Linked DNA regions of Homo sapiens: region 2 is linked to region 1. The links come from fine-mapping of genetic effects on gene expression. A gene starts in region 1. The other region holds a variant in brackets. All regions are shown on one strand. Distances are between the middles of the regions.

The links. PIP is the estimated chance that this variant, and not a neighbour inherited with it, causes the effect.
Region 2: its variant is fine-mapped to the expression of ERBB4 in stomach (GTEx, PIP 0.93).

What each region holds. Positions count from the first base shown.
Region 1 is chr2:212,536,358-212,540,755 of GRCh38, reverse strand. ERBB4 (erb-b2 receptor tyrosine kinase 4) reads left to right here and starts at 1,954. Exons shown (of 28, transcript NM_005235.3): 1 at 1,954-2,307. The coding sequence starts at 2,226. RefSeq lists an enhancer at 2,923-3,423.
Region 2 is chr2:212,377,530-212,381,927 of GRCh38, reverse strand. The region is part of intron 1 of ERBB4 (erb-b2 receptor tyrosine kinase 4); the gene reads left to right. Among named protein-coding and RNA genes, the nearest start is that of MIR548F2, 47 kb to the left of the region's middle. The variant T/A (reference allele first, on the strand shown) is at 2,314.

The DNA of each region.
Region 1 (4,398 bases):
AGGGGAATGAGAAGAGATTGAATGAAAGAAGAGAAAACAGAGAGAAAGAGTAATTAAAAAAAAGAAAAGAAAAGAAAACAAAGATAATCCCAAAGAGCAGTGTGCACAGTTTTGCTGCAATCAGTACCATTCTGGTCAAGTCTCCGTCATCTGCTCTAGGCTTAGTTCCTCTCTGCCCTAGGCTGCTTCTGGTAAAACCGCACGCTCAGCTTGTTGGGCGTCTTCATGGAGCCTGTTATTTGCTGTGGGTCTAAGAAAGGGAAAGCTTCAGGCTTCAGGCATCTGTACCTCCTATCTGTTCTCAGCTCCATGGAAATTCTTAAGGGATGGGGCTATAGATAAGAGAGTGGGAAATGGAGATCAAGGTCTCAAATGAAAGGCAGGGTGGTTTGATTTTTAAGCTCCCCTGATACTTTTTATTTATATATTTGCTGCTTCTAGAAAAACCAAAAAAGGAAAGTGATTCATACATAGAATGCCTGTACAAATAGCAAACCAATAACTACCCCCAGCAGATTCTGGCCCTTGCCAGGGTGCGGTTTCAGAGCTGTAAAAGGCAAGGGATATGTACATTGAAATGACCCAGTCCCAGAATATTTTAGATTCAGAAAAGGTCAGAGACTTTCGTAACTAGCAATGACCTCCAGATTAGGGACCATGAATGTGCAGAGTGAGGACAAGGAAGGGGCCTAAAGCTGGGTCTACTGTAGAATAAACAGAATCATTTAAGGTTAATTATGTTCTGATGTGGCCTCCTTAAATTCTTTCAGGCTGGGGACAATTTCTAGCCCTTTAAGATCAAATCAGTGGCTTTGGACTAGAATCTGCTTAATAAGAATGAACTCCAAAGGTGAAAAAAAAACATAAAATCTAAAAATCAAAGGATATGCCTTTATAAATGTGAAAGTTTAGTTTGGCTCAATGTTGGTCAGTTTAGAAATGTGGGAGTAATCGGAGAGATGGCATAACTGGGGGCGGGAGGCGGGGCGGTGATTATACCCCTACCACTACCTAATCCTCAGGGGCTACCAGTTACTTGCTGTACACACTTTTAAAGTACTTTCTAATTGTGGACCATGAGTGGCAGAGTACTGCGGGCGGAGGCTTTTTGCTGAAAGCAACATTGACTTTTATTTCTAGGGAAAGTCTTGTCTGTAGATGAGCACCGTGGGGCAACGGAGAAAATGCTGACTTTCTTGTTTAAAAAAAAAAAAAATTTCCGTAAGCGGCCCTCCAATGGTCCGTCCACTCAGCAGGCCAGCTGTCCCAGGCCTCTGCCAGGGAGGGAAGACGAGTGCTTCAGTGCATGGCTTCGGTGAGCCCTTTAAATCCAGCTTCCCCTGCCCCCACCAAGAGGCTCCCTTTCCCTGACAGGTGTTTTCCCAACTCCGGAGGCCCAGGATTTTGGGGAGTGGCTGAGCCAATAAGATTTCCCTTTGGAAGGGGGGGGGAAGGGCGTGGCTAGTTGGGTCAGAGCATGGGCGGGGTTTGCGCGGCTGAGCAGAGCCGGCCTGGTTGCGTGGAGGGTTGTTTTATTCCCACCGCCCCCCGCACCTTTTTTTTTTTTTTTTCTGGAGTCTTATTAATTTCTCTGTGGGCTGCAGCTGGAGACCGCGGAGCGCTGGAAATGACGCTCGGAGCTTTAATTACCGCAGCCGCCGGACAAGTGTGAGGAAAGCTGAGAGGAAAAAGAAGGACGGGATCCGGGGAGAAGCGAGAAGCTCCCCCCGCCCCGCTCCCCTCCCGATTTGGACTGGAGGTGCAAGGAAACTGAAGAAGGAGCAGAACATAGCCCGGCTGCGGGGAGAGGCCGGAAACCTACCGCCTCTTTGCAATCAACTTTTTTTGGAAACCTTTCGCCCCCCTTCCTTTTTTATTGTTGACCAACCAGTGAGAGAGAGAGAAAGTGAGGAGGGAGCGAGCAAGCGAAGGCTCACGCGGGGAAATAGCTGCACAGTCCGGCCCAGAGCGCCAAGCGCACACACCGAGCACACTCCCACACGCGCACACACGCGCTCACACTCGCCCCCTCCTCGGGCCCCGGCCCTGGACCCGCGGGCGCGGACTCGGTCGCCCGCCCTGGGAGTCGCCACACCGCGCGCGCCGCGCCCGCCCCCCTCGCACCCCCACGCGCGCCCGGCTGGGGGATCTCCTCCGCGTGCCCGAAAGGGGGATATGCCATTTGGACATGTAATTGTCAGCACGGGATCTGAGACTTCCAAAAAATGAAGCCGGCGACAGGACTTTGGGTCTGGGTGAGCCTTCTCGTGGCGGCGGGGACCGTCCAGCCCAGCGATTCTCAGTCAGGTGGGTTCCTTCTGGCACTCCGGTCGCCGAACCTGCAGCCGCCGGCGGGGCTGCCTCGAGTGGCTCCCCTGCCCTCTTCACCCATCCCGGGAGGCGTGGAGGGACCGCTTGACCGGGGCCTCTTCCCTGGGCTTTCGGTCACCCCTCTTTCCATTTGAAACTTACCCTGTATGTGTGCGTTTGCTTTATTTATCGTGAAAAATCACTCTGAGTCCCTCTTTTCTCTCCTTAACCCCCTGCTTTTCTTTCCCGAGCGTTTTGTTTGGGAGCCTAAGCGGGATCCCTTCTGGTGGCGCCTGTTGTTCGGGACATGGGAGACCCAAATCCCCAGTCAGAGGAGACTCTTCTGTCCCTGTCGGGTCCCCGAGGGCAGAACCCGCACCGCCGGGGCCGCGGTCCTGGGGCGGTGCTGGCTGGGCCTCTCCCGAGCCGAGCCCGAAGGGCGGTGGAGAGCGGCGCTCAGAAAATCGGGCTTTGCACCTGTGTGTGCTGCTGGCGACCGCTGCGCCCCCAGTCGCCCGAGCCTTGTGGCGTCAGACGCAACTCGCGCCCAGCCCGGGCAGCCGGAGTGCAGCAGGCGGGCGCGCCTCGGTCCGGGGCCCGGAGTTCTGGGCCTCTTCCGCCGGCTTCCCGGAGCCCTCTCCCCATTGACTTGAGGGGCGCTTACTCGCCTGCCTGACCTCTTAAAAAAAAAAAAAAAGGCTTGGCACACTTGAGCCAGAAGCCCGGCCTTCCCGTCGGTTGCCGTGTTTGGCTCCGGGAAGAGTTCTTCCTGTAGTTCAACTTGCTATTGGCCGGAGTCCTTCAAACTTGTCTGTTTACTGCCCGGCCAGGCTGCCGAGCCTGCGGGTCACTGGATCCACCCGAGGCGAAAGCGGCAGCGGCGATGGGTGCGCGGCCACTGCTTGCTGGAGAGCTCGAGCCCCAGGTACCTGGGCAGGCAAAGGGCTAATTGACCCCGAGAGGCAGCGCGGCGGGGCTGGCCCGCCACGGCTTGCAGGACTAATGACAGCACCTGCAGTGCAATGGAGCTCAAAGTTTCTGACACTAGAGTTTCCTGGGGATGAAAGTGGGACGGGAGAGGTCTGAGGAGGACCGGTGTCTTGACGTGGCCAAGGGGTGCCTTTTGGAGAGCCAGAGAGATTTCCGAAACCATCCAGGGATGGTGACTGGAGCGTGGGAAGTAGCTTGAGGTGATAAAGCCCCCGGGAGTGGCGATAGGGAGCGCTTTAGGCCCCCGGAGGGTGTCCTTCTGACCTCACCAAGAAAACGGCTAGCTGTAGTTTTCCCGCTCCGCCGCCGCCGCCGCCGCCGCCTCCTTTGCCTAGTAAATAACAAGTTACAATTATCGAGTCTTTCAAAATGACCTTCGAATGGCACATGTGAGGCGTTTGTGCTGGCCGTTTGCACCCTCCCAATTACTCCGAAATTCTTCACGCATACCAGGTCCCGCGCTCCAGCCACCTCCGGAATCACACCAACACGGACTTGACATTCCAAGCGGCCTCTTAGATACATCTCTTTTTATCTCCCTCCCCACTTCGAGTCCCTTCATATTTTCCCTCAATGGGTTGATTATGCACATTGACCCATTCAAAGGCATTGGCGACCGACATGCAGGCTTAGCCGAGAGGAATTTCTACGAGGCGACCTACTGGGGGCTGTCTGGTTCAGCCTCTGCCACTGGGGGACCCCGCTCCGAGTCCGCAGCAATTTGGTATTAACTGTGCGGCTCCGAGTTGAGCTATGCCGAAAAGCCCTTTTCAGAATTTCTGCAAGGAATGTAATCCAAATTAGTTCTGCAGCTGTCCTCTTCCTCGTCTCAGGCGACACTAGCTCGCGCCCTCGCTTCGTCTCTTCTCGTTTCCCTGGGCGAATTGTCAGACCCACAAGTGAGCCCATTTAGAGCGCGAGGATTAGCGTGCCATTGTTGTTCCGTGTGTGACTCTGTACTTGAAATTCTGGGGGCACAAAGGCGAGCCTCACTTGTTCAAAACACAAAGTGATCCAGATGAAAGGGCCGCACAAAGAAAAGCTCTCGGGTGCATCCCTGGTATAATTGCAACACGCATACTAAGGTGATCCATTGGA
Region 2 (4,398 bases), 160 kb after region 1:
ACTGTTTTTAATGTTAAGGGGAAAAAAAGAATGATGTCATATAAAGTTATAATATATAAAAACAGATTTAATGTAGGTTAGTTCTGGGTAGTTGAAATATCAAAAAATAATTACAATTCTGAGCTTTGACTTTTTCAAGACTTGGTTATCTGTGAGGGTATATAATGCATTTATGAATAAATTTATTTTTGTTACATTAATTTTAAGTGATGCCTAGACAGCTCAACTGGATTTTTATTGGGGCTCTGATTTTTTTCTGGTCATAATATGATTCCGTCATGAATAAATCTAATAAGGCAATTGGAGACATGACTAATTACTTGGCAGAGAGCCCAATTTTAACTCAAAATGGTTGATTTGGTGGTATTTGAAGACAGGCTGCAATTGCTTGGAGAGTTAAGAAAGTTTTAGGTTAGAGGAGAAAACATGGAAAAAGTAATGTCTCACTACACATATACATGTAATAGTGTCACTTATTTTTGTTTATGGTTTTCCAAGCAACAAGTAAATTATACCACACAAGACAGTCTGGAAACTGGTATACAGATGAAAAAGGCTACATTTAGATTAACCTCAGTGCACCTTTCCAACGCAGAGTGAAAAATACCTCTGTAGAAGTGGTTACTTAATCATTTAGGTACAACTGCTTCTTTTGAGCCAACCTTTGACTTTTTATCTAACTTTTTGAACTGACTCATCTAATTTTTGTAAGATTTTGGTTTGGTAATTTTGCATTAATTAGGATAATTTGAATCATTTTTCCTGTGAAATATAAATAATGTTTTAAGCTTGTTAGCATTTTAAACAGGAAAAAATAAGCAATAATTAATTTAAATCTTTTGTGTGATGTGGGAAGACATTTAACTATGACTTTTTTCGGTGAAGATACTATTGTTTTCTAAATTATGGAAAAACAATCATTTTACTTGAAACAATGAAAACGAAAAAAGAAACCTATCTCCTTTGCTTTAGGAAATTTAGATTGCTTTAATTCCGACTACCCAATATATGATTTTGTGTTGTGAAATAAATAATGGGCCTTTCTTTAACTTTGAAAATATTATTTGAATAAACTTTAAGTAAATACAATATACTTGATTTAATCTCTAATTATAACCAAATGTCATCAATTGCTATGGGATTCCAGATGTGATTTTAACAATTATTGAAAAAGGGTGCAAGGTAGTAATTATAAATGATAAAGATGTATGATACATTTTCAAAGAGCCTAAATTCTCGTGAGAAAATATATACATAAATACTCTTAATACATTAAAATAAAATATATTTAATATAAATGAAATATATTTAAGTATAACTTAAGTGTATTTTTTATCAAGTACACTATCTTAAAATAAATGAGCTGCATTCCTGATGTCAATTTCCTAAACAAATACATCAGTTGTAAATCTGTTTTTATCACTTAGCATAACATCATACACACACACACACACACACACACACACACACAGAGTCATTCCTCAGTATCTGAGGTATTGGTAAATCCATGGATACTCAAGTCCCTGGTATAAAATGGTAGTATTTGCATATAACCTATGCACATCTTCCCATATACTTTAAATCATCTCTAAATTACTAGTAATACCTAATACAATGTAATTGCTATTTAAATAGTTTTTTTAACTTTATTAGATGTAGAATAGTGTCAAGAAATAGAAGACTGTACATATTCAGTACAGACACATTTTTTCCCCTGAATATTTTCTATTTACTAATCATTGAGTCTACAGATGTGGAACCCATGGATATAGAAGACCAACTGTGTGTATGTAGATGTGTGTCTGTTTGTGTGTGTGTATAATCATGCAGCAGAGTAGCAGAAAAATATAAAATTTAAAAAACCTTATTAGATGGCAGCTATAAAGAGACTTACTGTCCTTAGCCCTACTACTTGAACAACTCTTTAGCATTTTCTGTATCTTCAAAGTAGAACTGATACAGGTGCCTGGTAGGTGTGACTTTGCGGTACATTTATTTTGTATTTTATTTTGAATATTTAAAAATGCTTACAATGTTTTGTCTTTCATTGCTTTCAGCCTCCCATTGGTAGTATGGAAAATGCACACACACACAGACACACACACACATACACACACACACACACAGAGGAGAGAGAGAAAAGAAAAATATATATGATAGAAAAATTGAGTGTTTTTCCCCCAAAATATCAGGGTGGGGGATTAATTTTTAAGATTCTTTCTCATTGTGTCACTTTTATTTTGTTATGATAATTTCCACTTGATTTCTTTTTCCATTTTCTTTTTTCCCATTGCCAAAAATAGTTTATTAAAG[T/A]TAAAGAGCTGTGGAAATGGACTTCTTGGCAATAGATTGACAAAGAATTTTTAAAAAGATCTTTCTGGCTCAAGATAATATTCAGTGATCATTCCTGATTAGACATTAGTAAAGGTAGTCTACACAAATGTTGACTCTATTTCCATATTTTTTATTGATAACTTTTCGTCATACTGCATTTATATATGGTACATTACAAATTTTTTCTTATTTCGTAGATATTTGAATAAAGGAGCTGTTCTAAACTTCACATAGCTGTGCTCTTTCTTATCACTGTGTGGTTACTGGCATATTGACGACTACTTTGTTGCTGTGTGCAAATGGAAAATCTTGTTTAAACATGAGCAAATGAGCACAAGATAACTTAATAATGACTTTGAGGATAACAGTTACATGAGCTTCACTTATCTTTACTAATGCTTTGCTACAATTAGAATTTGTTCCCCCTCTTTAGATAATCAAATAAAATATATTGCTGGAAAATTTCAGCTAATGTTTGAAGGTTTTAATTGTGAATTCACAAAAATTGAACATTTCACTTGAACTTTTTACTCATGAAACTAAGTGGTAAATGAAAGTGGACTTTGATTATTTCTACTATAAATGTAATGACATTTAAAATTTTTCAAAATTACAAAAGAAAAAACAACTGGGTGCCATACGATGAATATTAAAATATTTTAGAACCTCACCTAAATTCTGCATTTTAATGGAACTAAAATCATCAGTTTTAAATAGTTTATTAGTATCAGAAATTTAGCATAAATGGCAATGCCTACTACTGCATGTCTGTGCAGAAGTTTATAAATTGTTAACTCGAACATTGGTAATGCATATGATATAATTTTGATCTGGTGTAGACCATGTGTTAGTATAAATGTACAGCACTATACTGAGTTAATAGTGACCAAACTTCAGAGAAATATTAATCATGTAGCCACAAAGATAATAAAAAGATAAAGAAGATTGAATAAAAATATTTAGTTGCGAGTGAATTTGACCAGGGAAGGGGAAAAAAAAATGAGCGCTTTGAATGATGGCCTTCAAATTTTAGGTGAAAATAACTCTCTCAAGGCTGATTTCCCAGAAGATGGTACCCCAGTATCTTTGCTGGAGACAAAAGGCCAATGGAAGACTATATCATACATAAGAAAGTATTTCTCACTGTTAATAATTGCTAAACATCTCAGTGTTTCCTGATAGTGTGAGTACCTCCATCTCTAAAACAGGATAGTCAGTTATTTTAATGCTCAATGCAGGGCTCTTTACCTTATCAACTTGGACAAAGAACATTGGTTCTATTGAGACTTTTGAAGTTCTATATGCAGATGGCATATAGAACAGTATTCTGTTCAAAGCAGCTCTTCTGTCTTCCTCAGAGAGAGAGAGAGGTGCATAATGACATTTCAGCCAACAATACTGCATTAATGACGGTAGTCCCATAATATTATAATGGAGCCAAACAATTTCTATTGCCTAGTGTCATTGTAACCATTATAATGTTGTGGCAACACCATGCGTGCTATTACCCGTGAAGACCTTCCAATGGGACAAGATGTGGTGGTAGAAAACAGTGATATTGATGATCCTGATCCTGTGTAGGCCTAGGCTAATGTGTGTTTGTGTGTCAGTTTTTAACAAAAAAAAATTAAAAGATAAAAATAGGAAAAAGCTTATAGAAGAAGGATATAAAGAAAGAAAATATTTTTGTACAGCTGTACAATGTGCTTGTGTTTTAAAGTAGGTAGTATTACAAGAGAGACAAATAGTTTTAAAAAATTAAAAAACTTATGAAGTAAGAAACAAAGGATTTTTAAAACTTAACCTTAAGGTAAGCTAAGGTTATATTATTGAAGAAAGGAAAATATTTCTTATAAATTTAGTGTAGTCTAAGTGTAAAGCATTTACAAAGTCTGCAGTAGTAGCTGTAGTGCCCTAGGCCTTCACATTTACTCACCACCCATCCATTGACTCACCTAGAGCAACTCCTAGTCCTGGAAGCTCTGTTCAAGGTAGGTCCCCTAGACAGGTGTACCATTTTTTATCATCCTTGCTGCATTTTTATTGTACTTTTTCTATGTTTAA